Homo sapiens: one gene and its partners. The protein of the gene in region 3 interacts with the protein of the main gene of each other region in a pairwise test. Each region holds a gene or a part of one and is shown on either strand. Other genes may lie near its edges.

What was found.
Region 1: the proteins of BACH2 (region 3) and HMG20A interact in binary tests that used the Homo sapiens proteins (3 or more experiments, as listed by UniProt).
Region 2: the proteins of BACH2 (region 3) and MAFF interact in binary tests that used the Homo sapiens proteins (3 or more experiments, as listed by UniProt).
Region 4: the proteins of BACH2 (region 3) and FARS2 interact in binary tests that used the Homo sapiens proteins (3 or more experiments, as listed by UniProt).
Region 5: the proteins of BACH2 (region 3) and TRIM42 interact in binary tests that used the Homo sapiens proteins (3 or more experiments, as listed by UniProt).
Region 6: the proteins of BACH2 (region 3) and ZBTB24 interact in binary tests that used the Homo sapiens proteins (3 or more experiments, as listed by UniProt).
Region 7: the proteins of BACH2 (region 3) and ANKRD55 interact in binary tests that used the Homo sapiens proteins (3 or more experiments, as listed by UniProt).

The regions. Positions count from the first base shown.
Region 1 is NC_000015.10:77,426,621-77,431,167, forward strand, and holds part of HMG20A (high mobility group protein 20A), read left to right. Parts: intron 1-4,547. UniProt on the Homo sapiens protein: Plays a role in neuronal differentiation as chromatin-associated protein. Acts as inhibitor of HMG20B. Overcomes the repressive effects of the neuronal silencer REST and induces the activation of neuronal-specific genes.
Region 2 is NC_000022.11:38,208,210-38,212,756, reverse strand, and holds part of MAFF (transcription factor MafF), read right to left. Parts: intron 1-4,547. UniProt on the Homo sapiens protein: Since they lack a putative transactivation domain, the small Mafs behave as transcriptional repressors when they dimerize among themselves.
Region 3 is NC_000006.12:89,954,018-89,958,564, reverse strand, and holds part of BACH2 (transcription regulator protein BACH2), read left to right. Parts: intron 1-4,547. UniProt on the Homo sapiens protein: Transcriptional regulator that acts as a repressor or activator. Binds to Maf recognition elements (MARE). Plays an important role in coordinating transcription activation and repression by MAFK.
Region 4 is NC_000006.12:5,264,089-5,268,635, forward strand, and holds part of FARS2 (phenylalanine--tRNA ligase, mitochondrial), read left to right. Parts: intron 1-901; exon of another isoform or gene 902-990; intron 991-3,353; exon of another isoform or gene 3,354-3,435; intron 3,436-4,547. UniProt on the Homo sapiens protein: Is responsible for the charging of tRNA(Phe) with phenylalanine in mitochondrial translation.
Region 5 is NC_000003.12:140,698,017-140,702,357, forward strand, and holds the end of TRIM42 (tripartite motif-containing protein 42), read left to right. Parts: intron 1-2,399; coding exon of another isoform or gene 2,400-2,498; exon of another isoform or gene 2,499-2,726; intron 2,727-2,871; coding exon 2,872-2,958; 3' UTR 2,959-3,134; downstream 3,135-4,341.
Region 6 is NC_000006.12:109,476,549-109,481,095, reverse strand, and holds part of ZBTB24 (zinc finger and BTB domain-containing protein 24), read left to right. Parts: coding exon 1-21; coding exon of another isoform or gene 22-71; exon of another isoform or gene 72-147; intron 148-4,165; coding exon 4,166-4,333; intron 4,334-4,547. UniProt on the Homo sapiens protein: May be involved in BMP2-induced transcription.
Region 7 is NC_000005.10:56,110,862-56,115,408, reverse strand, and holds part of ANKRD55 (ankyrin repeat domain-containing protein 55), read left to right. Parts: intron 1-3,626; coding exon 3,627-4,291; intron 4,292-4,547.

The DNA of each region.
Region 1 (4,547 bases), on a different chromosome or scaffold from region 3:
ACTCATGCAGTTCAACCCATGTTGTTCAAGGGTCAACTGTACAAAAAAAATCCTGAAATATACACTAAAGGGGTCAGTTTTATGGTATGTGAATTATATCTAAAAGAGAGAGATACTTAGACTTGAAGAATAGAGAATTTTGAATGGAGCCAGAAGAAAGAAGCAAGAGGTGTGAAAGCAAGGAAATGATCATTCTTTCTCAGATCCTAGAGAGAAATATAAGCAGCTAGGTACAGGGCTAAAGGTATGTTAAGGATCAGGTGAGGATGGATATGAGGATAGCTTCTGGGTTTTTGTCTTAATGTAGCAGGGATTTTGGTAAATACTTAGACTACAGAGGTATTAACAAAGGAGAAAAACATCTTATGACCTTGAAGGAAGCTTCAGATTTCTTCTTGATTAGGTCAAGGATGTGGTATATGGTCTTTTTGGTTTCTGTGTTACGGTCAGCTGAGTTTAAAGAGTGGGAGTATTCTAAGGTAAGGAGTCTAGTAGCAATCAAAACAAAGTTACTGGGGAAGATGGGAGAATAGAGACTAGACAAAGATGTTAGAATTTGATTCTAAAGCTCTCCTCAGGTAATAAAAATAGATAAATCTTAATGAGAAGGAACCAAGGGCAGTGATTTGGAGAAGTCAGTACAAATAAAGGTATTCATTTGAAGAAATATTTGAGTGCCTTTTATGTGCCAGGCACTATTAAATAAAACTATAGCTATTTTCCTTATTTGACTTTTTTTCTGAAGATAAAATCTTATGAGTGTGATTAATGGTTCTACAAGCATGGGTAGTTCTAGATATGATACCTACATTTCCCTAAAAGATTGTACTGATTTTTAATGATAACAGCAATGTATAAGGATGTTGTTTTCACCACGATTTTACCAGCAAAAATATTTGGCTAGTTGAACACACATAAAATTATTGTTCTCTTTGCTTATAATCTGATAAGTGTTTCCATACCTTGGAACCTGGATCTGTTGGAACATGAAGGAATTCAGGACCCTTATACATGTTACCCCATATGGCTTCTTTAAAGGATATGGATTTTTGAGGATCCTAGAAATCAAAATTCTCTAATTTTATTCAGCTCAAAAAAAAATTTTATTCAGTGCTGCTGTCCTTATTTTCTGAATAATATTCAGATTCAGACCACACTGAGCCATAATTCCAATTCCCACTTGACTAACATTTATGTAGTATTGTGCTAGGCACTACATGTTATCTTAATTCTAATAATTTGGCATTTTTCCATATGAGAAAAATAAGATTTAGAAAGATTAGATTACTTGCCCAAAATCACTTAACCAGTAAGTGGTAGAGACAGGATTTGAATGCAGATCCTCTAAGGCCAGTGTTTATTCTCATACTGCATGATCCCTCAGTATCACTACTAAAATTTACTGGAGGATAATGGAAAGTGGAAAATCTGAACTGGAACTTGGGACAATCAAGCACTGACTTACCTGTGTTCATAATGAAGCATTTAGCAGAGATGTTGTTTGTTGTTTTGTTTTGTTTTTACTGGGGAGGCTATAGTACATAAACAGAGCGAAAGATCTTGGTATGGTTAAACCCACATTTTCAAGGCCTTCTGTGTTCTCCCTGATGATCAGGTACCTACTACCCCAAAATCTGTGATGGTAACAAAGAAGGAGGAAGGCAGCTGTAGAAAAGCAACGGCCTTTGGGTATACCCAGTAAGATTTATGTGATTGTAGAAAGAGCAGGCAAATGGCTTGGCCTTCAGAGAATCCCACAAAGTAAAGTAACCTTTTAAAATAGTAACTTAAAGTCTGACATAAGATTCTTAACAGGATATTCATCACAAGATAAGATATTCAAAGCATAGCGTGTAAGACATTCAAAGCATATCAGCAAAAAAGGAGAGATTCCTTCATTTTTATTGAAGTATGGTATACTCACAAAACAAATTTAATATCAGGAATATAAAACAAGAGATACGATGTTCCAATTCTGGCTTTAGTCGGATATTATAAAATTTAATCCCAATTTATAGATAAGGCAATTCAAGGCTCGAGATTACACACCAAATAAGTGGACTCTAGGCTGGGTGTGGTGGCTTCTGTAATCCCAACACTTTGGGAAGCCAAGGCAGAAGGATCGCCTTAGCTCAGGAGTTTGGGACCGGCTTGGGTAACATAGTGAGATGCTGTCTCTACAAAAAAATAAAAAATAGCCAGACATGGTGGTATATACACATGTGGTCATAGCTACTCAGGAGGCTGAGGCCAGAGGATCGCATAAGCCCAGGAGTTCAAGGCTGTGAGCTGTTATCGAGCCACTGCACTCCAACCTGGGCTACAGAGCAAGACTCTGTCTCAAAAAAAAAAAAAAAGGAGGGGGGAGCCTCTAGAACATAGGCCTTTAATCTGTGTGGTTGTTTTGCAATTTATATGTATAATTTTTAAATAATATGTTGGCCGGGCACAGTGGTTTGTATCTATAATCTCAACACTTTGGGAGGCTGAGACAGGAGGATTGCTTGAGGCCAGGAGTTTGAGACTAACACAGGCAACATAGCAAGACCCCATCTCTACTAAACAAAATAATAATAATTTAATATGGTGGGTTTTTTTGTTTTTTTTGTTTTTTTGAGACGGAGTCTTGCTCTGTCTCCCAGGCTGGAGTGCAGTGGCGCTAGTGAGCTCATGCAATTCTCCTGCCTCAGCCTCCCAAGTAGCTGGGATTACTAGCGCTTGCCTGCTTCAAAAGAAATGATTTCCAGCACCCCATTTTTTCTTTTCCAGCCTCAAAATTCATATCTCCTTTTTTTCCCCCATGTCCACATGTCCTTCATTCCTATACTTCATAGCTTTAATTCCTGTTCTCTTGATACAAACCTTCATGTTTGTTGCTTGATGGCATCATAATTATCATAACTTTTTGGCTTAATAACAGTAGCAGTTATATCAACAAATAATAAAATGTTCATACTTTTGAGCCAATAATTCCACATATAGAACTTCATTCTGAGAAAATACTTTAAATAAGAAAAATAGTTAAAGGCACAAAATGTTAATAGCACTGATATCTATACTGTCTAAAACTTGAAACCTTCTAAATATTCAACAATATAATAATGCCTAAGCAAATTATTGCCTATCTACTCAGTGGGCTGTAAGACATTCATTTTTCACAATAGCGTCTTTAAGAATACATTGAAAGATGTTGTAAGAATGTTTTTGCAAAAATGAAAAGGAGAAACATCAGAAGAAAAAGTAGAAAAACTAATGTGATTGGTGTCTATTTCTGAAGCATTTATATTTTCTATATAATAATAATTTACATTTACTGACCACTTACTTGTGTCAGGAACAATACTCAAGCAACATTATAGAAGCAACAATTTGTAGTTATTGAAAACTGGTGTTCTAGAATCAAATCTGAGCTTCATCACTTACTAATATGTGGTCTTGAAAAGGAAATGGAGGATAACTATGTCTACATTAAATTATTAAATCTATATAAAGTATTTGGCACATACAAAACCTACAATAAGAATGTTTTTGTTATCAGACATTTTATAAATATGTCTCATTTAATCTTCACATCCTCACAGTAACCTCATTAGATAGTGTTAACGTTCATTTTACATGAAAGAAAATTGAAACTTCAAATGTTTAAATACTCTAGGTTAAATAACTTGCCGAATCACTTAACTAATAAGCAGTAGAGTTTTTATTCAGAGCCCAAGCTATGGTTTCCACTTATGACTCTGAGAGATGAGGTTGCTGCAGACTAATGCTTTTGCTAAGAACAGGAAAGATGAGAATTAAAAAGAAAAGTGAAGGCATCAGAGACCTGCTGAGGCATCCAGGACTTAAGAAACCACAACCATAGAACCAAAGGAGCTTCAGAGAAGTGGGCTGATGTTCCATGCTTCTCTTTTTTCCTAGGAATTTGCTAATTCTTAGAGCATGACAAGATGCTGTGAAACTTAGCAGAGGGTTTCTTCTAAAAGCAGAGAAGCTGTTAGTTTTATGGGGCGGAGCAGACAAAACTTGGATTTTAGAGATCTCCAGGTAGCTAGTTCTTGGGTCAAGATCCCTAGAGAAGGACAGTACCCAGAAACTTTTTTAAAACTTGTTTTCCCCTCACAGTGTTTGCTAGGCAGAGTCTAGAACTGTAAGAAAGTTAATTTGTATTGCTTTAAGCCAATAGCTTTGGATAACTTGTGACAGCAACAATATGAAACTATTACAGAGACATGAGGAAATGATGAAGAAGTCTAACATACATATGACTGGAGGAGAGAAAGTTAGAAGCAGTAATATTTTAAGAGACAGTGATTGAGAATTTTCTAAAACCGATGACAAATATCAAGCCATGGATTTGAAAAGTGCAAGAAACGACAAGCAGAATAAATACAAGGAGTACCACACTTTCATTCTTCATAGTAAAAATAAAACTGTTGAAAGTAACCAGAGGAAAAAAGACACATAATCTTCAAAGGAACAATTAGACTGACATCTGACTTGTCAACAGAAATAATGGGGGCCAGAAAACAATACAATGTAACTTTTTT
Region 2 (4,547 bases), on a different chromosome or scaffold from region 3:
CTCTCTCCCCAGGCCTCCTTCATCTAGACCTCTGTTTTGGGAAAGTTTTCCCAACCTCCTGGGGGCTGCCCCATACTAACTCAGCATGCCCTAGGCAGATGGGGCAGCCATCCCTAGACCAATGAGGGCCTCTCATCTCCTAATCCTCCCTCCCACAGGCCTGACAGCCACATGCTCCTTCAACAACTATTTATTGAGCTCTTTGCCAAACATGTACTTGGTAATGGGGAGAAAAAGGTGAATAAAACTCGTGGAGGGTCAGTGGTCATTGCTCTGGGCTGGAGAAGGGGACCATCTCCCAAAGTCCCCTTTAAAGCAGCAGTCCTCTCTGTCTCTAGCTGATAGGATCTACTTTGCCAATCCTCTCAGGTTCTCCGCCATGAGAACCTGAGTTTTCTCATCTGTCTCCAAGGGGAGGGGGCAGTGATAAGAAGCCAAGGAAAATAAAGGAAGATAGGCTGGGCGCGGTGGCTCACGCCTGTAATCCCAGCACTTTAGGAGGCTGAGACGGGCAGATCACCTCAGTTCAGGAGTTCAAGACCAGCCTGGCCAACATGGCAAAACCCTGTCTCTACCAAAAACACAAAAATTAGCCCAGGCGTGGTGGTGCATGCCTGTAGTCCCAGCTATTTGAGAGGCTGAGGCAGGAGAATTGCTTAAACCTGGGAGGTGGAGGTTACAGTGAGCCGAGATTGCGCCACTGCACTCCAGCCTGGGAGCCTGGGTGACAGAGTGAGACTCCATCTCAAAAAAAATAAATAAATAAAAAGAAAACAAAGGAAGATGCTTTGTGATCTGAGCTGTAGCATCCTATAAACACGTACCGTATCGGAAAGAGCATCACCCAGTTTTGTGGACAGCAGAGGGCAAAAGCCAGATCCAAGTCCTGGTTCCTTGAGCTGTCTACAGGGTTGACCTCACGGGTTGGCTCAGCCTCTGACACATTCTGGCAGGACCGGGGTGTCTCCCAGGGACAAGGTGCAGAAATGGAAAGCACATGGACCTTGGTGCCAGACACACCTGGGGCCTTTTGGGGGTGGTCTCGCTCTCTAGTTGTGTGGTTCTGATAGGTCAGCCACTCTTTCTGTGCCTCACTTTCCCCCTGGGTGACACAGGTAGCTGTGTTAAGTCAGCTCATGTCACACCTCTCTCAGGACCTTCCCACGGCTCACTGGAGTAAAGCCAGAGTTGTCACCATGGCCCACAAAGTGCTGCAGAAAGTGATCCCCAGTGGCCGGGCGCGGTGGCTCACGCCTGTAATCCCAGCACTTTGGGAGGCCAAGGCGGGTGGATCATGAGGTCAGGAGATCGAGACCAGCCTGGCCAACATGGTGAAACCCCGTCTCTACTAAAAATACGAAAATTAGCCGGGCGTGGTGGCACGTGCCTGTAGTCCCAGCTACTTGGGAGGCTGAGACAAAAGAATCGCTTGAACCCGGGAGGCGGAGGTTGCAGTGAGCCAAGATTGTGCCACTGCACTCCAGCCTGGGCGAGAGTGAGACTCCGTCTGAAAAAAAAAAAAAAAAGAAAGTGCTCCCCAGCATCCCTTCTCCAACCTCAGCCCTACTTGGCTTCCTTTTGTTTCCCCTGCCTCAGCCACACCCGCCCTTCCTCAACACAGGATGCACGCTCCTCTCCAGGGCCTTTGCACTGGCTGGTCCCTCTGCTGGCGTTTTTGTTTTTGTTTTTGTTTTTTATACAGGGTCTCACTCACTCCGTTACAGGCTGGAGTGCAGTGACACGATCACAGCTCATTGCAGCCTCAAACTCCCAGGCTCAAGTGGTCCTCCTACCTCAGCCTCCCTAGTAGCTGGAACTATAGGTGCATGCCACCACACCTGGCCAATTTTTGTACTTTTTGTACAGACAGAGTTTCATCATGTTGCCCAGGCTGGTCTTGAACTCCTTGGCTCAAGCGATCCGCCTGCCTCCGCCTCCCAAAGTGTTGGGATTATAGGCATGAGCCACGACGCATGGCCTCTGTTGGCATCCTTGTTCCCTAGATATCCACAAAGTTTGCTCCATCACCTCCTGAGGTCTCTTCAAATCTCATGTTCACTCAGTTTAGAATTTGCAACCCCTGATACACACACGGACACACACACACACACACACACACACACACACACACACTCCCTGTGTCCCTTCCCCACCTCAGGTTTCCCCATGTGTAATTGTCATCACTCACATATATGGTGGTTATTTGTTCAGTGTCTGTCCCTCCCAACCCCCCGATTAGAATGCCAGCTCCATGAGGGCAGAACTTATACCTGATTCACCGCGGCCTCCCCCATGCCTAGAACCGCGCCTGGCACCTCGCAGATACTCAAGGAATCCTTGCTGAGTTCTCAGTGTGACTCAGGCCAAGGTGGGGACAGTCCAGGGCTTCTCAGGAAACTCCCCAGCTCCTCCCAGCCCACACAGTCAGGGGGTCTGGCAGCTCACAGGGAAGGAAGGAGTGGGACAGAAGGAAGTTGGCGCTTGCAGAGATCCCCTGACAGGGGCAGCCACTGTGGCCCTTAAGCAGGAGAGTCTTAGGGGTCACCCAGGTTTCGCTGGGGGTAGCTGGGTGGACCCAGAGTGCCAGGTCAGGACCCAGGCAGCTTTAGACCCCTGTGCGGATCCACGGTGAAGACCAGTGGCTTCATGGGGTGACCCCTGAGCTGCGACCCCCCACTGCTGAACATGCCGGCTTAGCCTGGGCTCTGGCCTCAGTTTCCCTGCCTAGCACTCCAAATCCTAGGGGGCTCAGGCCCTGGCTGCCCACCTAGCTCTCCTTGGGGGCCTCTGTGCACTCCCATCCTACCTGGAAAAGTCATATGAGATCTGCTGGCTACCCTGACCTTTCAGATACTATCTGGAGACGTTTACATGTCAACCTCACCGATCCTACCTTTCAATGCAGGCCTTTTTTTTTTCCCTTTTTTTTTTTTTTTTTTTTTTGAGATGGAGTCTCGCTCTGTCGCCCAGGCTGGAGTGCAGTGACAGGATCTCAGCTCACTGCAACCTCCGCCTCCTGGGTTCAAGCGATTAGCTCTGCCTCAGCCTCCTGAATAGCTGGGACTACAGGCGCCTACCACCACGCCCAGCTAATTTTTGTATTTTTAGTAGAGACAGAGTTTCACCATATTGGTCAGGCTGGTCTCGAACTCCTAACCTCAGGTGATCCACCTGCCTCGGCCTCCTGAAGTGCCGGGATTACAGGTGTGAGCCACCACGCCCAACCCAATGCAGGCCTCTTAAGTGGTCACCCTCACCACCCTACACACACCTGGGGAGGTCCCAGCACACCTCCCTGCTGGTCTCAGCTCATTCCCACACAGCAGCTGGACAATCTTTGCACCACGCGAATCTGACCATGCCACCAGCCAGATTAAAGCCTTCCATGGTTCGGCTGGGCAAGGTGGCTCATGCCTATAATCCCAGCACTTTAGGAGGCTGAGGCGGGCGGATCACAAGGTAAGGAGATTGAGACCATCCTGGCTAACATGGTGAAACCCCGTCTCTACTAAAAAATACAAAAAATTAGCCGGGTGTGGTGGCAGGCACCTGTAGTCCCAGCTATCAGGAGGCTGAGGCAGGAGAATGGCGTGAACCCGGGAGGTGAAGCATGCAGTGAGCCGAGATCGCGACACTGCACTCCAGCCTGGGCGACAGAGTGATACTCCATCTCAAAAACAAACACAAAAACAAACAAGCAAACAAAAAAAAAACCTTCCATGGTTCCCTACTATCCTAAGGATGGAGTCCAGACCCACCCTCCCAGCACCCCAGGCCCTGTGTGTCCAGCCCCACGCCCATTTCCCACCACTGCCACCTCCACTCTGTGCTCCAGCCACACAGAATTTCTTTCACTTCCTCCCACCCGCGCTTTCTTGCCTCTGAGCCACCTCCCACCCCATGATATTTCTCTCCCCTCACTCCCCTCTACTTTGTTTGGCAGACTCCTACTCATCCTTCGGCCCTGGGTGCAGACATCTCCTCCTCCAGGAAGCCCTCCCTGATCCCTAGGACTTGTTAGGGACCCCCACCCCTGTGTGTAATGGGTTGTATTTCCTTGCTGTCTCTCCACCAGACAGGGAGAGGCTGAGTCAGCTCTGGGTGCTTGAGGCCACCCATCTCAAGACCTGGCAGGGAGCAGGCACTGGGGAAGGGTGGATGGTCAGAGTCTCTGACGCCATCACCCAGCTTGTCACCAAGCCGGGTTCCAAGCCGAAACGTAGTTCAGTACCTCCTGGCCCTGTCTCTAATTCTTCCTCCTCTCCAGCTGCTTCCTTGGGCCTGTTGGCAGAGACAGTACAGATGCTAGGCGAATGGGAAGAGAGCAGAGGGGATCCCATCCACGTGACTTTGGGCCCAAAGGTGGGGTGTGGGAAACAGGGAAAGGAGCACTGGATTGGGAGTCAAGCTTGGGTTTAAGTCGCATCTCTGTTTTCTCAGGCTGTGTGACCTGGGGTGAGCCACTCCATCTCTCTGGGTCTCCACTTTCCCATCTAAAGGATCGGAACAATACCTGCCTCGCAGGGTTTTGGTGGAATCAAGTGGTA
Region 3 (4,547 bases):
TTATTCATATTTGTAGCAACAGCAATAATACTGGTTGTTACTTAATGCCAGGTCCTGTTCCAAAGGTTTTACTATAAGGCAGGCACTGTCAGTATCCCTGTCTTACAGTTGTAGAAACTAAAGCATAGAGAAACTAAAGCACAGAAAGGTTAAGTAACCAGCCCAAGTGACACAGCTGGTAGACAGCAGAGCTGAGACTTGAATCCAAGAAAGTGGAGTCCCCAGACCTTGCATAGTACACAGTGAGTGCCTAGCACATCGTTGGAGAATGAAAAAATGAGTATGGATGGACACAGTGGCTCATGCCTGTAATCCCAGCACTTTGAGAGGCTGAGGCAGGAAAATGGCTTGAGCCCAGGAGTTCGAGGCCAGCCTGGACAACATAGTGAGACCTCATCTCTAAAAAATAAAATAAAATTAGTAAACAAAAAAATTATAAGTGACTGAATGATCAGATAGAGTCTCAGGAGTAAAACTTACAAATAGGGGAAGGATTTTTACATTATGGCTGCAGATCCAAGTTCAAACCTGCACAGGAGAGAAAAGACACTCCGTTTATGTTTTAAGACATATTCACTAAGACAAATAATGATTTTCTTTAGCTAAAAGAACCACCATATGAAATGATATATGTATAAATCAATTTCAATGTTGATTTAGTTTTTATATTATTACCTTAGGAATAGAACACAAAATAAGCTCTATCTAAAATTCATAATAAAATTGCCCAGGCACAATGGCTAACACTTGTAATCCCAATACTTTGGGAGGTCAAAATAGACGGATTGCTTGAGTCCAGGAGTTTGAGACCACCTGGGCAACATAGTGAAACCCCGTCTCTACTAAAAATACAAAAATTAGCTGGGCATAGTGGTATATGCCGATAGTCCCAGCTATTCAAGAGGCTGAGTTGGGAGAATCACCTGAGCCCCAAAGGTTGAGGCTGCAGTAAGTGGCAAGATCATGCCACTGCACTCCAGCCTGGACAACCAGTATGAGACCCTGTCAGTAAATAAATAAATAAAATTAATACGAGGCCAGATGTGGTGGCTTACACCTGTAATTCTAGTACTTTGGGAGGCTGAGGCAGGAGGATCCCTTGAGCCCAGGAGTTCAAGACAAGCCTGGGCAACATAGGGAGACCCTGTCTGTAAAAATAGATAAAATAAAAATTAATACTAAAATAACCAGAAGCTTTGTTGAAATAGTAAGGTGAATTAATTTGACAAATACTTTCTAAATGTCTAGCATGCTGCTTTGGAAGAAGAATGTGATAATGTGGATATGAATTATAGAAAATTAAGATGAGGAGTGATGCCTGATCACTAAGTCAGTTTTCATCCTGCAGAGTGGGTTGCAGTGCAGTAAGAGAGTGGGAAGGGAGAGTTAATTGTCACCAGCATTGCTTTCATCATTTGACAAGTGCCTTGCTGTGCAAATACAACCCAGAGGGGTTGTCAGTGGTCTAGCGTTTTAAAAAGCCCTTGGGCAGGGGTTCATTACCTTTATCTTCCTGGTTCCTGCAGTGTGTAAGAGATTCAGCTTCATCAGGAAAGTGTACATGGTGTTGCTGAAGATGTAAGTTTCCCTTTTTTGTGAAGTTGTGATTAAGGGACCTTGAGAAGCGTGCCAGCCCTCTCCCAGGGAGCAGTCACCTGTCCTCCGGATTCATCTGATCAGCCTTCTGCAGATGGGCTCAATGCTACAGCCATGTGTATATACTGCCAAAACCAACTGGAGACACCTTAGTCATGTAGCTTATATAGAGAATGATGTTCCAAGTCTCAAAAATCCTCAAACCCTATTTTCAATAAATGCCTGAAGGCTGACTGCCTCATCCCTATCATAGTCCAGAGATGGAACTGTTGTAAGTATCCTCATAAACTCTGTCCTGCAGCAAAATGGATGTCTCATGAAACACTGAGCTCCCCAAAACACTGAGCTCCCCAAAACACTGAGCTCCCCAGCTTTGCAAACAGTGCCCAAACTTTCTCTACAAATTGAGTTTTCATCAGCCCATCTTCCTTTCAGCAGAGAGATGATATGTTAGAATCCAATGTAATGAAGGATTAAGGGTCATAGTTACAGTGGGTCAAATTTCAACACATTGTCAGCATGTTGACTTGCACCATCGGACACGGTACCCTGGCCTTATTTCTTTCAGGGTTGAACCAACTATGTGCCAACTGCTAGCTGAGGTCATCACCTCCTAGGAAGCAGTCTGTGGGAGGTTGGAGGGTTAACTTTCTGCCTTCTCCGAGGTCTCGCCCCCACATGGCACACTGTATTCTGGCCCCAATGTGTGATCCCATCTCATCTGTATCAGAATGAGTATTGCACAGTATGAGACCAGGTAGTTACATATTTAAGTGCAATGAAAAAATGTTCTTCGAAATGAGGCATTCAAAATATTTTCATTCAAAATGCAAGACTGTTATCCCAAGTTGTCCCTAACACCATATTTTGCATTTGTTTCTCATACCTTGAGGCCACTGCTGACCAGTGGATTTTAGTCTAGATGGGTCTGCTTAGAGCAGAGGGATGCAACTCCATTAACATCAGTGAGTTGGAACTATTCTTCTATTTATAGCCACTTCATTCCATTTTAACTTTATGATCATTACTTTTTAAAATACCATTTTATGAGTTGTTAGTTTTGCGTGTAATTCTCCACCTCCCACCCCCCTCTTATTTTTTCCCATTATTAGAGCCTTATTTGTTAAGAACAAAAAGTAAGTAACAATGCAGACTTGTGGTCACAGTTTCATGAACATACAGCTTTTCACTGGTACCTGAATATTTGCCTTCTGAGTATAATGAATGAATTTAAATGGTCCCTAAAAATGGGTAGACAGTGCCACCTTCTCAAGATGGAGGCTAAGCCAGTATTTAGAAAGCCTCTGCCTGTTGTAACACTTGCTGGCAGGTGTGATGGGCACTTGCTTTCTGTTTTGTGTATCTGGAGCGATTACCACTGCCGAAAGTAGACCAGAGATGGGTTCCTGGGAGGGACCCTTGTGACAGTTCCGAAAGTAGCCATCGTATCAAAGCAACCCTTGACCTAGAGCAGACACTCAAGGCGTGCTGATAAAAGTGTTCAAGGGGCCCCCTTGCTAGTCCCCTCAGCCTCAGTAGTCTCCTATCCTGAACTTGTCTGGATTTCTCAGTTGACAACTACTCATATAATCTTGCAATGGCTTTTCCATTGTTGACTTGCTTACATTGTTACTTAGTTAACTTTTCATCATTTGTACCTCTTCTACAAAGCTAAATCTTAGATCTCTTGAGCACAGGCCTGAGTCCTACACATATCCTTCCCTCACACCACTAGCACAGAAGAAGAAACAGACTGGACTTGGTTTGGAATCCTAGCTCTCCACTGACTAGCACTGACCATGGATAAACTCCTTCACCTCCCTGCTTCATAGTTTCCTTATCTACAGAATAAGGGCAGTCATGCCTGCCTTGCAGGGTGTTACAAGAGCACAGTGCTGGGCACTAGGAGATACTTGGTAAATGGTCATTCTGGCTCACCAAACAAAGCCTCACACACAGAAGCTGAGCAAAATCTTGCAGACTTAAATATGACAAAGCAGGACTGAAACCAGAATGGGAGAAGAGCTAGTTATGAGCTCTTGAACTTTCATGGTGAGGACACCATTTCCTCTGCCCTTGGGCTTAAGTGACAGTTTACAAACCAGATTTTTTATCTATGACTCTTTCATGACCATATGACGATCATTTCAAGCTCAGGAAGTTTCCTAAGCCTCAGTGATCTAAGGAGTGCCATTGATTTGTGATGTGGAGACTTTGCTCATTCACCTCCTTGGTCCAATTCATACATTTAAGCATCAGCTCGTCCCTGAGCGGAGATGCTTTCTCCAGCTCCTTGCAGCCATGTGGCAGAGGGTGACTCCCAGTACTGCTTCCTGATCTACAGATCCCCATGGATGTCCCTGGCTTCTTTAGAAATTTTCTTTACAAGAGGCCACAGTGGAAGATAGTGGTAAGACTTACTTAGACCTACAGCATCAAAAAAAAAAAAAATGGTGATAAGGATGGGAGTATGAGAAAAACTGTGTGAACACTCTGGGGACTGTTGTGGGGTGGGGGGAGGGGGGAGGGATAGCATTAGGAGATATACCTAATGCTAAATGACTAGTTAATGGGTGCAGCACACCAGCATGACACATGTGTACATATGTAACCTGCACATTATGCACATGTACCCTAAAACTTAAAGCATAATAATAATAAAAAAAAAAAGAAAAACTGTGTGAACAGTATAAATAGCATTGAAATTAGTTTCCTACATTTCCCATATAGTGAGCACCTTTGCCAAAACTCAAGAAGTGTCTTATCCACCCTTTTGGCAACTGGCACATTACAGAGGAGCATAGGATCATTACGAGGGCAGGGGTCAACTCTGCATTGATTTCACCATTTCTTTCTTTGTGGTGGAGCCATGTGGCAGTAAAGGAATAGGTCATGTGACATTCTTGTCATCTTCTTCAGTTACCTATAAATACACATTTCCTTGCTTTTTT
Region 4 (4,547 bases), about 85 Mb from region 3:
ATACAAAAATTAACTGGGTGTGGTGGCATGTGCCTGTAGTCCCAGCTACTTGGGAGGCTGAGGTGGGAGGATTGCTTGAGCCCTGGAGGTTGAGGCTGCATTGAGCCATGATCACATTACTGCTCTGTAGCCTGGGCAACAGAGTGAGACCCTGTCTACCAAAAAGAAAAAACAACAACAACAACAAAAAGAAATTATTCTATTCTACACCACACATGAATCCAAGTATTATACATTGATCCTTCATTTTAATAGAACACGAAGGGGAAGGGGGAAGACCTTAGATATCAACTCATTCATTTGTACAGATGAACAAACTGAAGACTTTTTCCTCATTCGTTCATTCCTTCAGCATTTATTGAACACTTCCTAAGTACTATAGGTTATGGTTTTTCTTTTCTTTTTTCTTTTTTTTTTTTTTTGAGACAGAGTTTCACTCTTGTTTCTCAGGCTGGAGTGCAATGGTGCAATCTCGTCCGGCTAATTTTTTGTATTTTTAGTAGAGATGGAGTTTCACCATGTTGTCCAGGCTTTTCTTGAACTCCTGACCTCAGGTGATCCAGCTGCCTTGGCCTCCCAAAGTGTGGGGATTACAGGCGTGAGCCACCGCGCCCGGCCCATAAGTACCATATATTATATAAGATGATATAGTCACAGTGATGAGAGCTTCCCCACCCCTAAGAAACTTGTAGGTGACTAGATAAGCGAAACAATAATTTATTTTATAGAGACAGGGTCTCTGTTTACTAAGCTGGAGTGCAGTAGTGCTATCATATCTCGTTGTAACTTCAAACTCCCGTGCTGAAGTGATTTTCCTGCCTCAGCCTCCTGAGTAGCTAGGCCTATAGGCTCATGCCACCATGCCTGGCAGATTTTTAAGTGTTTTTTTTTTTTTTTGTAGAGATGAGATTTCACTATGATGTCCAGGGTGGTCTCAAACTCCTCAGTGCCTCTCCTGTCTTGGCTTCCCAAAGAGCTCAGATTATAGCTGTGAGTCGTGGCACTTGGCCAATAATTTCTTTTTGACAGTTGCTGCGATATGAGTAATATTAGTAAACGCTAAAGGAATAGGGAAGAGGAATATTGAACCAGGAGTTTCACCTATGGGAAGGCTTTCCATCGTAGAAGGTGTTTCCAGAATGAGAAGTAAAAGCCAGATGAGGAATGTGGTTAAAGATTGCAGTGTATATCCAAGCATGGAGGAAGAAGGGTGCTTGATCTATTTAGAGAACTCTTAAGTGTTTTAGAATGGTAGGAGGTGGGAAGGGAGGGACCACTGAAGTGTTTAGCCCTGTACTAGCTTTATTTTAGTGATGTTTTCTCTCTGTCTGGAATAAATCATTTCTTCCCTTATGCATTGGCTGAGTTATATAAGTAGAACTTAACAGCTGAGCTGTTGAAATGGAGATTATTTATTCAGGTACTGATAACCTTTTGTTTCAAATCATGACTTTGAATCCTATATTCCAGAGGCACTGAAATGTTATTTATTTACCTGTGCATTCAAGAGATAGCTGGCAGCCTAGCAATTTAAGTTACTGTTGTTGTGGTAACTTGAGGGCGATATATAAATCAAACACTGATCCTGTTTTCCAGAAGTTTATACTTTAAATGCATTTGTATATGATTAAAATAAGGTATTAGGTTGGTGAAAGTAGCTGCAGTTTTGACCGTTACTTTTAAGGGTGAAAACAGCAATAACTTTTCTACCATCCTGTACAAAGGGCTGCTGAAGCGTTGTGGGGTCTCAGTGCAAGGAGAGGTCACTTCATCCCTGATGCTTGGGCCACACCTCAGACCAACAGCAGTGCTAAGGCCCAGGCTTCAGATAATTTTGTTTAATTTTTTTTTAAAATTCTCTCCATGATTGGGTAGAGCCAGGGCTGAGAAACATTGACCTGAAGGAATTAGGGGGCTTCATGGAGGAGGTAGTGTTTGTGTTGGGCTTGAGAGGATTTAAGTTTCTCCTGGGCCTTGAAAGGAATTGAAGGATTTAAATGTTTGAATGTGGTGGTAAGATGGCTACTGTAGGTGGAAGATGACTCACCCTTTACCTTGAAAGGATGAAGGAGAAACCCTGATTGAGGTCTAAGAAAAAACAATCATGACCTGCGGAAGGCTTTGGCCAGAGCTGTAGAGTGCATGAGGGTGAGAACGGGGAGATCCCGTGAAAAGGTAATACATCGGCTTTCATATGTTTTAGGCATGAGATGAGCTGAATCCTGATATGATTTGAGTTAGTCTTCCCATGACCTGATGGAAGAGCTGTTATCTCCATTTAAGAAAAGTGAAGCTGCCCAGGTGTGGTGGCTCACATCTGTAATCCCAGCACTGTGGGAGGCTGAGGCAGGAGGATCACTTGAGCTTGGGAGTTTGAGGCCAGCCTGGGTAACATAGCGAGACCCCATCTCAATAAAATAGAATAAAAAAAAGAAAAAAAAATGAAGCTGAGAGTTTATTTAGCCAGGGTCACACAGCTGGAAAGTAGCTAGTGTGGACCTTGGCCTGAGATGTGATCTGTCTAGCTATGATACAACACTGCTTCACAGATAAAGTACCAGCTTCAGGAATTGGAAGGTTATTGATTTTTCTTGGATAACATGGGTACATTTCAGTCATATTTGAATTTTAATTTAGTTGGATTCTCACTTATTTGTAAAGCTAACCGGTTTGTATTGGAAATATTATAAATATTCTGGGAATCTCAAATGTTGATTTTATACTAGCTTTTTAGTTATTTAAGATAAATTTACATTTTATTCTATTAACATCTCTTTGAAAAGACGTAGTGCTTTTTTAGGTTGTCTATTTATGTGTGTATGTGAGACATTTCCTCTTGGGGGATTCTCTGAGACTCACATTTCTGTAGAAGCTTTTTTCAGATATACTTATGAAAATCTGTTCTCTGTTTTGAGAAATCTTGAAAGCTATGATATGTTGCAACTAGACACTCTAGCTTCATTGATTGGAGGCTAAGGGTTCCCGTATTTGTGGGCAGTAACAACAAAATTGACAATTTATTTTGTGTAAAGTATTTCAAATGTCAGTTATTTCTAGAGGTTTTTTTTCTTAAAAAAAAAAAACTCATTAATTCTTTTCATTGTAAAGGAAAGAAACCATCTTTTCATGCTACAAACCCCGACCACCATGAGAATTCTTTTACAGTGTGATTTGTTGTAATCTGTTATAGATCACTTTCATTCTTTCTTTCTTGCTGCATATGAGGGACCAGTATTTTAGGAATAATGTTTTCATATTGTCTGGATATTTTAGGATGATTTGTTAATCAAACTAGCTACAGCTTATTGTAATGATAGCTATTATTTATTTAGAGTTTGTTTTCTCTCTTCTAGGAGCTTTGCCATGAAAAGAACAGTCCAGGCCAGGCGTGGTGGCTCACACCTGTAATCCCAGCACTTTGGGAGGCCCAGGCAGGTGAATCACGAGGTCAGGAGATGGAGACCATCCTGGCTAACACAGTGAAAACCCGTCTCTACTAAAAAAATACAAAAAAAATTAGCCGGATGTGGTGGTGGGTGCCTGTAGTCCCAGCTACTCGAGAGGCTGAGGCAGGAGAATGGCATGAAGTTGGGAGGTGGAGCTTGTAGTGAGCTGAGATCGCACCACTGCACTCCAGCTTGGGAGACACAGCGAGACTGTCTCAAAAAAAAAAAAAAAAAAATCGCCACACTGTCTTCCACAATGGTTGAACTAGTTTACACTCCCACCAACAGTGTAAAAGTATTCCTGTTTCTCCACATCCTCTCCAGCACCTTTTGTTTCCTGACTTTTTAATGATCGCCATTCTAACTGGTGTGAGATGGTATCTCATTGTGGTTTTGATTTGCATTTCTCTGATGGCCAGTGATGATGAGCATTTTTTCATGTGTTTTTTGGCTGCATAAATGTCTTCTTTTGAGAAGTGTCTGTTCATATCCTTCGCCCACTTTTTGATGGGGTTGTTTGATTTTTTTCTTGTAAATTTGTTTAAGTTCTTTGTAGATTCTGGATATTAGCCCTTTGTCAGATGGATAGATTGCAAAAATTTTCTCCCATTCTGTAGGTTGCCTGTTCACTCTGATGGTAGTTTCTTTTGCTGTGCAGAAGCTCTTTAGTTTAATTAGATCCCATTTGTCAATTTTGGCTTTTGTTGCCATTGCTTTTGGTGTTTTAGACACGAAGTCCTTGCCCATGCCTATGTCCTGAATGGTATTGCCTAGGTTTTCTTCTAGGGTTTTTATGGTTTTAGGTCTAACATTTAAGTCTTTAATCCATCTCACATTAATTTTTGTATAAGGTGTAAGGAAGGGATCCAGTTTCAGCTTCTACATATGGCTAGCCAGTTTTCCCAGCACCATTTATTAAATAGGGAATCCTTTCCCCATTTCTTATTTTTGTCAGGTTTGTTAAAGATCAGATGGTTGTAGATGTGTGGTATTATTTCTGAGGGCTCTGTTCTGTTCCGTTGATCTATATCTCTGTTTTGGTAACAGTACCATGCTGTTTTGGTTATTGTAGCCTGGTAGTATAGTTTGAAGTCAGGTAGC
Region 5 (4,341 bases), on a different chromosome or scaffold from region 3:
TTAGGGGTATGTCTCTGAGGACTCTATTACATGCCATGGGTCTATATTTCTGCTCTTATATCAATACCATACTTGTTTTATTATTTTTGAACCTCAGCTTTCTGCCATGTCTTTATGAACTGCTACGGTAAGTATGCCCATTATCCTTCTTTCTTTTTCAGAAATTATTTAGCTAATCATAGAAATTTATTTCTTCATATACATTTTGGAGTAACTTGAATTCTTAGAAAACATTCAGATAGAATTTATTCAGAAGGCATTGTGTTTCTAAATTAATTTGGAAACAAATGGTATTTTTGTAATATGTTTGAACATTTACTCAAACCATAGTCTATGTTCTTTACTGGGGTGTTTAAGTTTTCCTACATAGGTGCACATATTCCTGGTTAAACTAGATCATTTAGAGATCTAACGTACAGCATGAGGGCTACAGTTAATAATATTGTATTGATAGAAAATTTGTTAAGATTTTAGGTGTTCTTTTCACACACACAAAAAAAGATAACTGTGAGATGGTGGGTATGCTAATTTGCCTGCCTGTAGTAATTATTTTACTTTGTATACATATGTCAAAACATCATGTTGCATACCATAAATAAATAAACCAAATAGTTTACAGACTGTTGATATTATGAAAGTTATTTTATTATATTTTCTAATAGATTACTGGTTTAGAATAAAGACTATTTCTGTTTGTAGGGTAATCTTGATTCCAGCAATGTCAGAAACTCTCCTTACTATTCTGAGACCCAATCTGCTATTTCTGCTTGTTTTCCCAGGCATATGATCCTATCTCCTATAAAGAATGATGGTTTTATCTGTTTACTTACAATTCTCACAATTCTATTTCTTTTTTCTTTCCTTATGGCTTTGGCCAGAACCTTGAGTCATACATAAAATTGTGGCAGTGTTAGTAGATATCCTTGTCTTATTCCTGATATTAACGTTTCTCCATTGAGTTATTTTTTATTTAGTTTTTATGGTATATAATCCTTATTAAGTTAAGGAAAATTACTTCTAGGTTTCTGAGAAATAGGTACTTATTAAATTTTTTGCATTATTTGAGGTAATTACATGATTTTTCTCCTTCAGGCCATTATTAATGAAGTGAATTACATTGACTGATTTTTCTGATACTAAATTCCACTTCCATTCATGGAATAAATCCTGTGTGTTCATGATGTATTACTTTTTAATACAGTTTACTTCAGTTAGCTCGTATTTTATTTTGGTTTATTGCATCTATAATTATAAGGGAATTGGGCTCAATTTTTTGCTTATATTGTTTTTATCTGGTTCTGGAATCAATATTTCACAACCTTCATAAAAAGAGCTGGGAAACTTTTTGCTCTTCTATTTTCTAGAATAACTCTTAAGAGTTTGGTAGAATTCATCTGGAAAGCAATATGAGCCTGGGGCATTTGGGGCAGGGAAGAGATGTCAACTATCATTTCAATTTCTTTAATATTCCAAGTTTTGTTTTTCTGTTTCTTCTGTCCTTCTTTCTACCTGATTCCCTTTTTTCATAGACACACCTCAATCCTCACTGCTCCATTCACATATCACATACAGTCTTTATCTTTGAAGATTCTGACTATATTTTAAAGCAAAAACTCAATCTCCTATTTATGAGTTAATTCCTAACACCTCGTAACACCGTTCCATCTTCCTCATGCCCTCTGATAACTCTGTGTGTATCTTGGACATTATTTATACTACTTTTATCAGGGTTATCTCTATGCATTATTTCCATTTCTACTCAGCAATGGATAATCTAATATCATGTATATAATATGACCTTTGCCTTGCATGCAGCCCTGTCTTCTCTAAAACCAAAAATTTTGTAAAAGTAGAGAGCATAATGCTAATAAGGGTCTGGCTTCTTTGTTTTTGCCCTTTCCCTTTATATACAAATATAGAAGGTTAAAAGCTTTGTACATAGAGACTTTGTGCCCTGTATAAACATTCCTCTTCACCATACAAACCCCACCCCCATTCTATCTCAAGTCCTCATTCACCTCAGCAGAGCCCATTGATCCAGTGGACTGTCTTTCATCCCTGGGTCTCGACCTCACTCCATAAATATTTATTTGGGGGGAAGGAATGGGAATGCTGCCAGACCACAGTAGTGAAGAAACCCAGTATCTTCAAGGTAAGGCATGGAGGGCAACATCTAAGCTAACTTGGTGAGATTTCTAGGAGGGTTCTTCTTACCCCTCGTGCCCAGTACAGTCTTTCTTTTTCAGGTAGCACTGGCCATTCACTGTAATTAAAGATAGTATGAAGTGTTTCTGCTAGCATCAAAGGAAAACAACTGGCAGATTTACAAATTATATTATATTATAGTTCTATTCACTGTTCATATACTTCTCTAAGAATCTTCTCTTTTCCATAACTAGTGTTGGGACCACAGAGATGAAAGACTATCATTTCCCCCACACCCCAATCAAGGTGCTCATGGTCTGGTAAGAAAGTCAAATGCATTAGCTGAAACTTAACAACTGATAAAAGCTGTGACAGAACCAAGTTCTAATGGCTGAGGAAGGATACAGAGGATCCTCTATGGTGAAGCTCACCTGCGGTCCAGCCCCATCACTGTCATCAGCACTTAGTCACATGAGCTACCCTAAAGGGAAGTAGGATCTGGCCTATGGAATCACAATCCCAGGACACTATAGCTGTGGGGCTTTGGGAAACCTTCCTGGTCCTTCTGAGCCTCAGCTTCTTCATCTATAAAGTGGCACCAACAGCCACTGTGGTGGTCGTGAGGAGTTAATGAAATGATGTGTGTAGTGTCTGACATGCAGAAGGGCCCAGGCTACTGGGAGCTGTTGTCTATTGGGTGTCATGACTCTTCGCTTCTGATTGCAGGTGGTAACACCAGATGGACATGGGAAGAACCGAGCTAAGTGGGGCCTGCTGAAGAATATCCAGTCTGCCCTCCAGAAGCACTTCTGAGCCCCTTCAGAGCAGGAAACAACCTCAGACTCATCACAAAGTAGACATATACACACACATATATGTATGTATATTTTTCTCACCACATTCTTCAAGGAGGTTGTAGACAAATGTTTCCATGACCTCTCAGCTTTCCAACAGGAATCTTGTAAGAGCTAATAAAAGGAAATACCTGACATGGCTTGCTGTTTGTTCAATGACAACTATTTGTTATGATGACAGTAATAAGCAAGGCACTCAGCAAGTCTGTATATTTCCAGCTGCTCAGGTCTAGTCCTAGGCTCAGAATTCTGTGGTGTTTTGTAGGAGCAACACCCAGCTTCTAGGTGGTAAAAAGAACACTGTATTTTGCAGTCGGGACCCCGTAGGTGTGCATTCTAATGCTGGCCTAACTAGCTTTGAATGCTTGGGCAAGTCGCTGATTGCCACGGAATTCATTACCTCACCATGTAGTCTATTTTAAGGAGCCAACATTAAAATGTTTTTCCTAATTATTGAACTTGAATTTGCCTTTTCACAACTTTCAGCCCATGGTCTGAGGTCTACCTCTAAGCCATAAAGAATGAGAGCCCTCCCTCTTCTCCTTCTGGACATAGCAAAGGAAGAACGGTAGAATGCCTGGTTAGAGGATCCTCTATGGTCATTTGAAGCAAGGCATGGAAGAATGACAAAATCATGTATCAGCTCCAACCTCACTGAACTTAGCTTGGCCTTTCAGACAATATGAAGTCCCTAGAATTTCTTGTCATACAAGGCCCTATCTGCCAGAAATGACCCTCTACTGAACCCCACGCCATTTCTTCCCAGAAAGCACCACCTGTCTTTCAAGACTCAGCTCAACCACTTTCCCCAGTGATCCTCCAAATTATGATGACAACATCTTTCTCCCCTGCATCCCCACTAAGCACAGGGACCACCTGTCCCACCCCTATTTCCCATAAAGACACCCATTCCAGCCCTGTGATACTTAGGACTCATTTGTCCTGAGTCTTAGAGCAGAGATGGTGTCTCATTCATCTTCTATCCTCAGTGCTTGGGACAGTGAGGCACACATTACATGTTAGTACCAGGAGGGACACACCACAGCTGAAAGGCAGACACATAGAATGACTCTCCTCTGAACATCCCCAGGTGCCAGTTTGCACAATGAAGGTTTACACACATAACTGGGACTGTCCATGAAAAGGACCAGGCAGTAACTGGTCTCCATTTCCTCTAATCCCAACCTTTTCATGAGCTGTGCAACTGGCAGATGTGGCCAGCCCATCTAGCTTCACCAGTAGGACTTCAGCTCTGCAACCCTTTATTTTTCATCACTGCCAGAAAAGGGCCATTCCACAAAGAGATCCATAGTGAGGATCTTCTGATAATGTGAGAAAATGA
Region 6 (4,547 bases), about 20 Mb from region 3:
TCCACCAGAGGAGCCACACAGGTAATGATGTTTTCAAAGCTGATTGCAGTGTGTTGCAGAATTGGGAGTAGTGATGATAATAATAGCTTCCATTTACTGTGCAACTTCTGTGTGATGGGCATTGTAATAAAGCCTTTATACATGTTATTGCAGTTAATTTTCTCCACAATCCTGCAAGGTGGGTAATATCCTCATTATACATTGTATGATTAAAATCATATTTACTCATATGTAAGAGAGGGTTGCTAAAGTGCATAGTTTACAGATGAAGCAACCAAGTTCTAGGGAGCTTAAATAACTTGCCAGAGTCACCCGTTAGTGACAGAGCTGGGATTGAACCCAGGTAGCCTGGTTCAAGAACCCCTCTCATTTGTAGTTGTTGAATGAATCCTTTAATGTCCACTTATCAAGATCTAGCCCAATGTACCCTGCTTTCTGATTCTTGAACATTCTTCATCTTGACCATAACCATGCTTTTGCCCAAGTCTGTGTAGATCACTTTGTAACTCAGCTATCTAGCTTTAAATACCTTCTCATTTTTGGTCCCTCTAGCCCAGCGCTGACCAATGGGACCCTTCTGTGATGATGGAAATGTTCCTACATCTCTGATGTCCAATATGGTGGCCAGTAACCACATGTGGTTTTTGAGCACTTGAACTGTGGCTAGCGTGACTGAGAAACTGAATTTTAAATTTTATTTTAATTCATTTAAATTTGAATAACCACATGTGGCTAGTGGCTACCGTATTGGACACTGCAGTCCTAGTGAGAAATCCCTTCCTCCTTTGAGCCCTTTCAGGTGCTTAAAACCCACTCTGCTTTGGATCAGATTGTTGTTACCACTTGTATATCCCTCAACTTAATTGTAATCTTAAGTATAGGGACTGGGGCTTAAGTCTTCTCCTGTGATCCAGCAGTATCTGGTGCTGTGGTTCTCAGCCTGCAAATTGGAATCACTTAGGGAGCTTCTAAAACTACCAGTGCCTAGACCTCCACCCCAGAGCTTCTGATTTAGTTGTCTGGAGCCTTGGTGCTTTTAAAAGCTCCCTAAAGACTTTAGCTACAGATAGGTTGAAGAGCTTGAATTCAGGTACTTCGAACAAAGTGGATACTTGAGAAATATTTGTTGAACTGTAATAGGTTATATTTTAGCTTTTTTTTTTTTTTTTTTTTTTTTTTTGAGATGGATTCTCGCTCTGTCACCCAGGCTAGAGTGCAGTGGCGCGATCTCGGCTCACCGCAACCTCCGCCTCCCGAGTTCAAGTGATTCTCCTGCCTCAGCCTCCTGAGTAGCTGGGATTACAGGCACACGCCACCACGCCCAGCTAATTTTTTGTATTTTTAGTAGAGACGGGGTTTCACCATGTTGGTCAGGCTGGTCTCAAACTCCTGACCTCGTGATCTGCCTGCCTCAGCCTCCCAAAGTGCTGGGATTACAGGCGTGCGCCACTGCGCCCAGCTGGCTATTTTTATCAAAAATTTTATGTGCATAGTTTAGAGTTAAATCATTATACAAGACTTAAGAAAAAGCATGTAGGATCGTTCTTCCCTTATGTCCTCAGTACAGACAGTCCCCGACTCACAATGGTTCAATTCATCTTTACAATAGTGTGAAAGCAGTACATGTTCAACAGAAACTGTACTTTGAATTCTGAGTTTTGATCTTTTCCCGGTCTAGTAATATTCAGTATGATCCTCTCATGCCATGCCGGGCCACACAGTCACGTGGGTAAATGACCAGTACTCTGCATTTGGTGCATTCATACAGTACTCTGTATAAGTGCATTTTTCCTTATGATATTTTCAGTATGATGGGTTTGTTAGATGTAGTCCCATCATAAGTCAGGAAGCATCTGTATTCTGAATTTTGCAGCCCATCACTTTAGTATGGGTCTGTTTTCTTCCATCTGGGTAGATAACAGGTAGATTCATAAGGTTTGGAAACTGTCTTTCAGTTCTGGAAAATCTTGAGTTATTTCATAGATGATTTCTCCTCTCTGTTTTCTCTGTTCTCTCTAACTTTATTTTCTCTTATATTTTCCATCATTTTTGGCCCCACCCTCTGGGGGATTTCCACTTTGTTTTTCAGCCCTTTGAGGTTTTCTGTTTCAACTCTTATTTTTTTCCCCCTTTAGGAGCTCTTTTTTTTCTAAATGTTTTAATTTGAATGATCTTTTTATTTCACAATGTATTATCTTACCTCTATGAGCATGTTAATGATAACAACATTTTCCTCACTGGAGGCAAGTTGCTTTTTTTTTTCTTCTTGCTTGTTTGTCTGTCACTATTACAAAAGGCTCTCCTTGAGTGCCTGGTGTTTTTTTTTTAAATCATATGTAAGGGTGGGTTGCTAAAAGCTACTGGCAATGCTGCATGTGTGGAGAGAGCCTGTATTTTATTTATTTCTTAGGCTGTTGCCCAGGCTGGAGTGCAATGGCGTGATCTCCGATCACCACAACCTCCGCCTCCTGGATTCAAGTGATTCTCCTGCCTCAGCCACCCAAGTAGCTGGGATTACAGGCACGCACCACCATGCCTGGCTAATTTTTTTTGTATGAGAGAGTCTGTAAAACTGTGACCTTGTTCCCAGATCACACTGAGAGTCAGGCTGCTATTTCTCGTGGCCCAATAATGAGATGCAGATGAATTGGAGAGGAAGAGAGTTTTTATTTCTGTAACCAGTTATAGGGAGAAGGCCTGGAAATTATCGCCAGACCAACTCAAAATTACAGAATTTTTCAGAGCTTATATACCGCCTAAGCTGTATGTCTGTCTGTAAGTGTGCATTCCTCTAAAGACGTAGGTGATTAACTTCTTTTAATCTATATCCAAGGTCTGCGTCCCAAAGACCTTCTTCTGGAGCCTCAGTAAGTTTACTTAATCTAAATGGGTCTAGGTGCTGGGGTGATTACCCTTATCTTCTGCTAAATCACGGAGATTTGGGGAGTTCCTTCAGATCCCCAGTAAAACTTGTTTAATCCTAAGTGGGCCCTGTTAAGAATTCCTTCGTTATTTTGTCATGCTTTAAGGCCCAGGAGAAGCCTAGGGGAAACTCTTGGTGGGCTTTTGTTACATTCCAGCCTTTGTTTAAGGGCACTGGCTTTTAATGTTTAACTTAACCACTCAGTCAGTACTGAAACAGTTGTATGGAGGCCTGTCATAACCTCACTGGAGGTGGTGTGGCTGTGCCCCATGTCCTTACTGGTGCCTGGCTTCCACATCTTTGCTCTCTCACCTTGGACCTCTCATGTTCCACTGGAAGACGCTTCTGCTCTCCCACTTGGAGGCACTAGGCCTGGCTGCTGGCCTGTGTCTAGGACAGGATGGGGAAGAAGGAGTGGGGGAGTCTCATCATCCCAGATGGAAATGTTGACTTACTCTCCCTGTGGTGATCCCAACTCAACTGTGCCTAGAAACTCCTAATCCAAAGACCCCTTTTTCTTAACCCTCCTCAGTGAACACTCTCCATTCTCTTTTGGGGGAGGGACAGTCTCCTGGCTGTGTAGAGTGGAAGATTTGATCAGGGGTCTAAGCACCTTTGAAACAGACTTTCATTTACCCTCCCTCACCCCTGTTTCCAGAGATAGCAGGTGCCACCAATTCCTGAGCCTTAGGAGATTGTGTCTTAAAAATTAGGTTGTATTGGGCTGGGTGTGGTGGCTCATGCCTGTACTCCCAGCAATTTGGGAGGCCGAGGCAGGAAGATTGCTTGAGCCCAGGAGTTGGAGACCTGCCTGGGCAACATAGTGAGATCCCATCTCTAAAAAAAATTAAAATTACAATTAAAAAATTAGCTGGGTGTAGTGGTGGCACATGCCTGTGATCCCAGCTACTCAGGAGGCTGAAGTGGGAAGATCATTTGTTCCCAGGAGGTTGAGGCTATAGTCAGCTATGGTAGCGCCACTGCACTCCAGCCTGGGTGATAGAGTGAGACCCTGTTACAAAGGAAAAACAAAAAATTAGGTTATGTTAGTGCTACTCACTGCTGGCTTCAGATTCATCTGTTCAGCTTCCAAAATTTTATTGCTGATGTCTCTTGTGTTCATTGTTGGCCTTTTGGATGTGTGCCTTTTAAGAAAAATCCTTTATTGTTTTTTTAATTTGGGAGAGACAGAAAAATGTGTGGATTCTTACTTATACCATGCTTCTGGGGCTCTTCTTCCAGGGGAGCGACCTTTCAAATGTAATGAGTGTGGAAAAGGCTTTGCCCAGAAGCACTCGCTACAGGTCCACACCAGGATGCACACAGGCGAGCGGCCGTACACCTGCACCGTGTGCAGCAAGGCTCTGACCACCAAGCACTCACTGCTGGAGCACATGAGCCTGCACTCAGGTAGTGGGGCTTGCCCAGAGGGCCAGCTTCACCAGATTCCCATTCCCCAGGGTGGGCATTACCAACACCTAAATGGTGTTTTCTCAGCCTAGTATCATTTCCAACGTGGTGTCATTGAAAGACAGGATTTTGCATCTGTCTGAGTGCAGTTTAGAGTTCTGCACGGATCATTAAACTAGAGCTTATAAACTGGCTGCTGGGAGTTTAGTGTGCA
Region 7 (4,547 bases), on a different chromosome or scaffold from region 3:
AGGTGGAGGTTGCAGTAAGCCGAGACAGTGCCACTGCACTCCAGCCTGGATGACAGAGCAAGACCGTCTCAAAAAAAAAAAAAAATAGAATAAAGTGGGTTCCACATCTACTCTTTGCATTCTCTCTGTTGCGATGTAATGTGTTTTGTTTTTTGGTTTGGGGGTTTGCTTATTTATTTATTTATTTATTTATTATTATTATTATTTTTAGAACCAGAGTCTCACTTGTCATCCAGGCTGGTGTGCAGTGGCATAATCATGGCTTACTGCAACCTTGAACTCTTGGGCTCAAACGATCCCCTCACCTCAACCTCCTGAGTAGCTGGGACTTTAGGCATGTGCCACCATGCCCAGCTGGGTTTTCTTGTTTTTTGGTTTTTTATTTTTTTGTAGAGATGGCCTCACTATGCTACCCAGGCTGGTCTCAAACTCCTGGCCTCAAGCAGTCCTCCCACCTTAGCCTCCTGAAGTGCTGGGATTAGAAGTGTGAGCCATCATACCCAGCCACAGTATCATGTTTTGATTGATGTATATAAAAACGATCCAGCCTTATATAAATACGTAGTTGGAAAAGGCAGGTGTATCTCAATAGGCTTTTCAGATAATTGTGTGTATTTTTCTTTGATACGATACCAAAACTTAACAAGCAGCAGTTTCTTAAAGGTTAATTGCAATGTGGATTCTCACCATATCAATGAATTTTTTGTACTCTGTCACATTAGAATACATTACTATACCTTATACTTTAAATGGGTCTTATACACATGCGTGATTTTATTAACACCTTGCATTGGTCATTTGGAAAATATTGGTTCACTTAATTATAAAGATCTTCCAGATGACACATTTCATTATACAATATCAAAAAGTCACATTTGTTAACATCACCACCAATCTATTGGACAAGCTTTATATACTGAGATGGTGTCAAGCTTACAATGTGAATATAAGTTTTCCAAAATTCTAGTTTTTGCTTGAAAGCTAGACTTTTGTCATTGGCTACAATAACTGTCAGTTATTTATCTTGAAATGAAATATTCACTGTATTCGTTTTATTTTATTTATTTGTTTATTTATTTTGAGATGGAGTTTCGCTCTTGTTGCCCAGGCTGGAGTACAATGGCACGATCTCGGCTCACCGAAACCTCTGCCTCCCAGGTTCAAGTGATTCTCCTGTCTCGGCCTCCAGAGTGGCTGGGATTACAGGCATGTGCTACTACCCCTGGCTAATTTTGTATTTTTAGTAGAGACAGGTTTTCTCCATGTTGGTCAGGCTAGTCTCTAATTCCCAACCTCAGGTAATCCACCCGCCTCGGCCTCCCAAAGTGCTGGGATTACAGGCGTGAGCCACCACGCCTGGCCCACTTTATTCATTTTAATATATTTTTATTGTATATATATATATATATATATATATATATAGTATACATATTTTGATATAAATATACCTAGTCAGATGGGTCGAGCGCAGTGACTCACGCCTGTAACCTCCACACTTTGGGAAGCCAAGGTGGGTGGATCACTTGAGCCCAGGAGTTCAAGACTAGCCTAGCCAAGATGGCAAAACCCCATCTCTACTGAAAATACCAAAATTAGCTGGGCGTGGTGGCATGCACCTGTAATCCCAGACACTTGGGAGGCTGAAGCACGAGAAATACTTGAACTCAACTGCAACTTTGTACCCTTCGACCTACACCTCCCATTCCCCCACCTCACCCTCACTTCTGGTAATCACTGTTTTACTCTCTGTTTCTGTGTATTTCACTTTATTTATTTTGCAGAAATTTCTGCAAATACTTAGCTCTACATAACCACAGTTTGTCTGCAAGGCATAAAAATGGTGTTCCGTGAAAAAAGTGTCCGGTTCAGCCCGCGACTCAAACAATTGCACAGCTGCTTTACCCCAAGACAATCATCACACCTCCGTATATAGTAGAATTGCTTACGAGTGCTTCTTATTTTGTCAAACAAGTGTACTCAAGTTAATATTTAATCAAATTAATAACTTGTACTCCCTAAACAAGGACATTATTAAGTTAAAGGACTTTTTTTTTCTGCAAGTACATTGATGCCACTATTGTCCTGATTTGTACTGAGGCAGCCACCATTTTACCCACCACCTCTATTGCACCATCGATGCAAGGCAGCACAGTGAAAAAGACAAATAACGTTGTGATGTTATTATGAATAGAGTTTAATGCCATAAACCCCTTAAAAAGTCGGGGATCCCTCTCCAAGGGTTCAGTGGACCCCATTTTGAGACCCAGAGGCCTAAAGCACAAGCTGTAACAGGAGGAGGAGATGGCTTACACAAGATGCTGCAATAGCATCAATTCACACAGACATATTCTTTATAGGGAAACTTGAGCGTCGGAAGTGCCCTGGGGCTCTCTCTCTGGTGGTATTAGGAGTCTAGAATTCAGTATTTCAAAAAGCCCATTGGAAGGTGAAAGAATAAAGATAAGACTACATCATGGAATAAAAATTCAAAGGATGCACTGTGTGACCTGTAGAGAAAACATTCATTATATGCATCCAAAATAAGTGGTGATGTTTTTCAAATTGCAGATTGCGATATCTCACTCCAGAAAGTAGTGTTGCAATCTGACTCAGGGGCACACACACGGGTCAGGTTTCATCGTTAATTCATACCGCAGAAAGCATTAAGTCAATTGGAGCCTCAAAAGAGAATCACACAGAATTTTCTAAGGAACACAAACAGAATCTTGCCTCAGGGAACCTCTCGACAACTGCTGGCCTTTTTCCTTTATAATTTGCCTGCGCATTGGGCATTGCTCACTTTCTTCTGCAGCCACGCCCGACCTTGGTCATGCACTCCTCCTCTTCCCTCGCTGGAGCCCAGACTAAAGCTTCTTTCCTTGGTTGTTTTTTTTTTTTTTTTTTGCTAGAGATGAGATCCTGCCATGTTGCCCAGGCTGGTCTCAAACTCTTGACATCAAGTGATCCTCCTGCCTCAGCCTCCCAAAGTTCTGGAATTATAGGCATTAGCCACCGTACCTGTTCTTCAGCATACTTTTTTTAAAAGTACTTTTCGATAGGAAAGTTTTAGTTTAAAATGGGGAGGGGTCTCTGAGGGGGATAATGTCAGTCGGTCAGCACTCGGTCCAGGTTTTCTAGGATCTCTGTCAGAGAAAGCCTAAAACCACATTCCCCCCACCTCAGCAACCTCCTCCATCCTTCTGCTCATTGAAGCCTGAACTCAAACCCTTAGGCTTCATCTCTGACTTCAACTTGCGTGCCTACTGACTGTCCTTGAGATGTGAGAACAACACTTTCAGCTAATTTTCAGTTTAGTTAACCTCTTGTTGAAAACAGATGATCTAGGTGTAAATTTTGAAAGGATATCCCCTGAAGGAGCAAGAAAAATCTAAGAAACGTCCTCCTTGGGCAAAGACTGCCCATGGTAAAGAGCCTCTTCTGGGCGGGATTGCCAGGGGTACTGTGAGTTCTTCACACTGCCTTTAACTTGAGAAGGCTTTGGAGGTATCTAGGAAGGATCTCAGAAAACCTGATGAAGCATGTGGAATAGGGGGTCGGTATTTCGGTGAGTGATGTCTCTACTTCCCATACTCACATATCATCCCTGCTCTTTTATATTCGCATAGAACAGAGCCTACTCGACCCCCTCCCTCCCAGAGCAGTCGGCCCCAGAAGAAGGAGAGACGGTTCAACGTGCTCAACCAAATATTCTGCAAAAACAAGAAAGAAGAGCAGAGAGCCCATCAGAAGGATCCCAGCAGGGACCGATACAGAGAGGAGGACACCTCAGAAGTCAATGACATCATCACCACCTTTGATAGCATCGTGGGTACCAACTGCCAAGAACAGCCTGGTGATCAGGTGGCTATGGTTGAATTTAAGAAGAAAACCTCAGACAATTCAAAATATCTCTTACCAGAAAAGAAACCGCTGGCCCGTAAGGGGCTTCCACCAATCAGAACGCAGAGTCTCCCACCCATCACCCTGGGCAATAACTTCCTAACAGCCTCCCATAGGGCCACTTCCCATGCAGGCCTGAGCTCTGCTCCTCATCATATGGCCCAGCGATCTCAGAAAAGTCGAAGTGAGCAGGATTTATTAAATAACAGAACTGGCTGCCAGATGTTACTAGATAACCCCTGGAAGAGTGATTCTAATCAGGTATTTTCCTACAAAGTTTGGACTGTGTCTTCTTCTGATAAGCTGCTGGACAGATTGCTCAGTGTCCGGCCTGGTCACCAAGAGGTCTCCGTGCCACCACACCTTCGCCATCTACATAATCCATCATCAGGTAATGTCCTTGATTTCATGTTCATTCTCAGCAGGCTCTATACTGGAAATGTCCCGTACAGTTTTAAGCTAGGAACTGGAGTGACAATAGCCTAGAAGGCAGGGTGAGAATAAAATGAGTGATTAGAGCCACCTTTTCTCCCAAAGTGCACTGGATTTGAGATTTCTGAGCTGTGAAAACATTCTGCTTCTCCCCTCTTCAAGTAATCATCAAGTACAAATATGTGCCTTCTCATCTCCCCAGCAAATATGTGTGG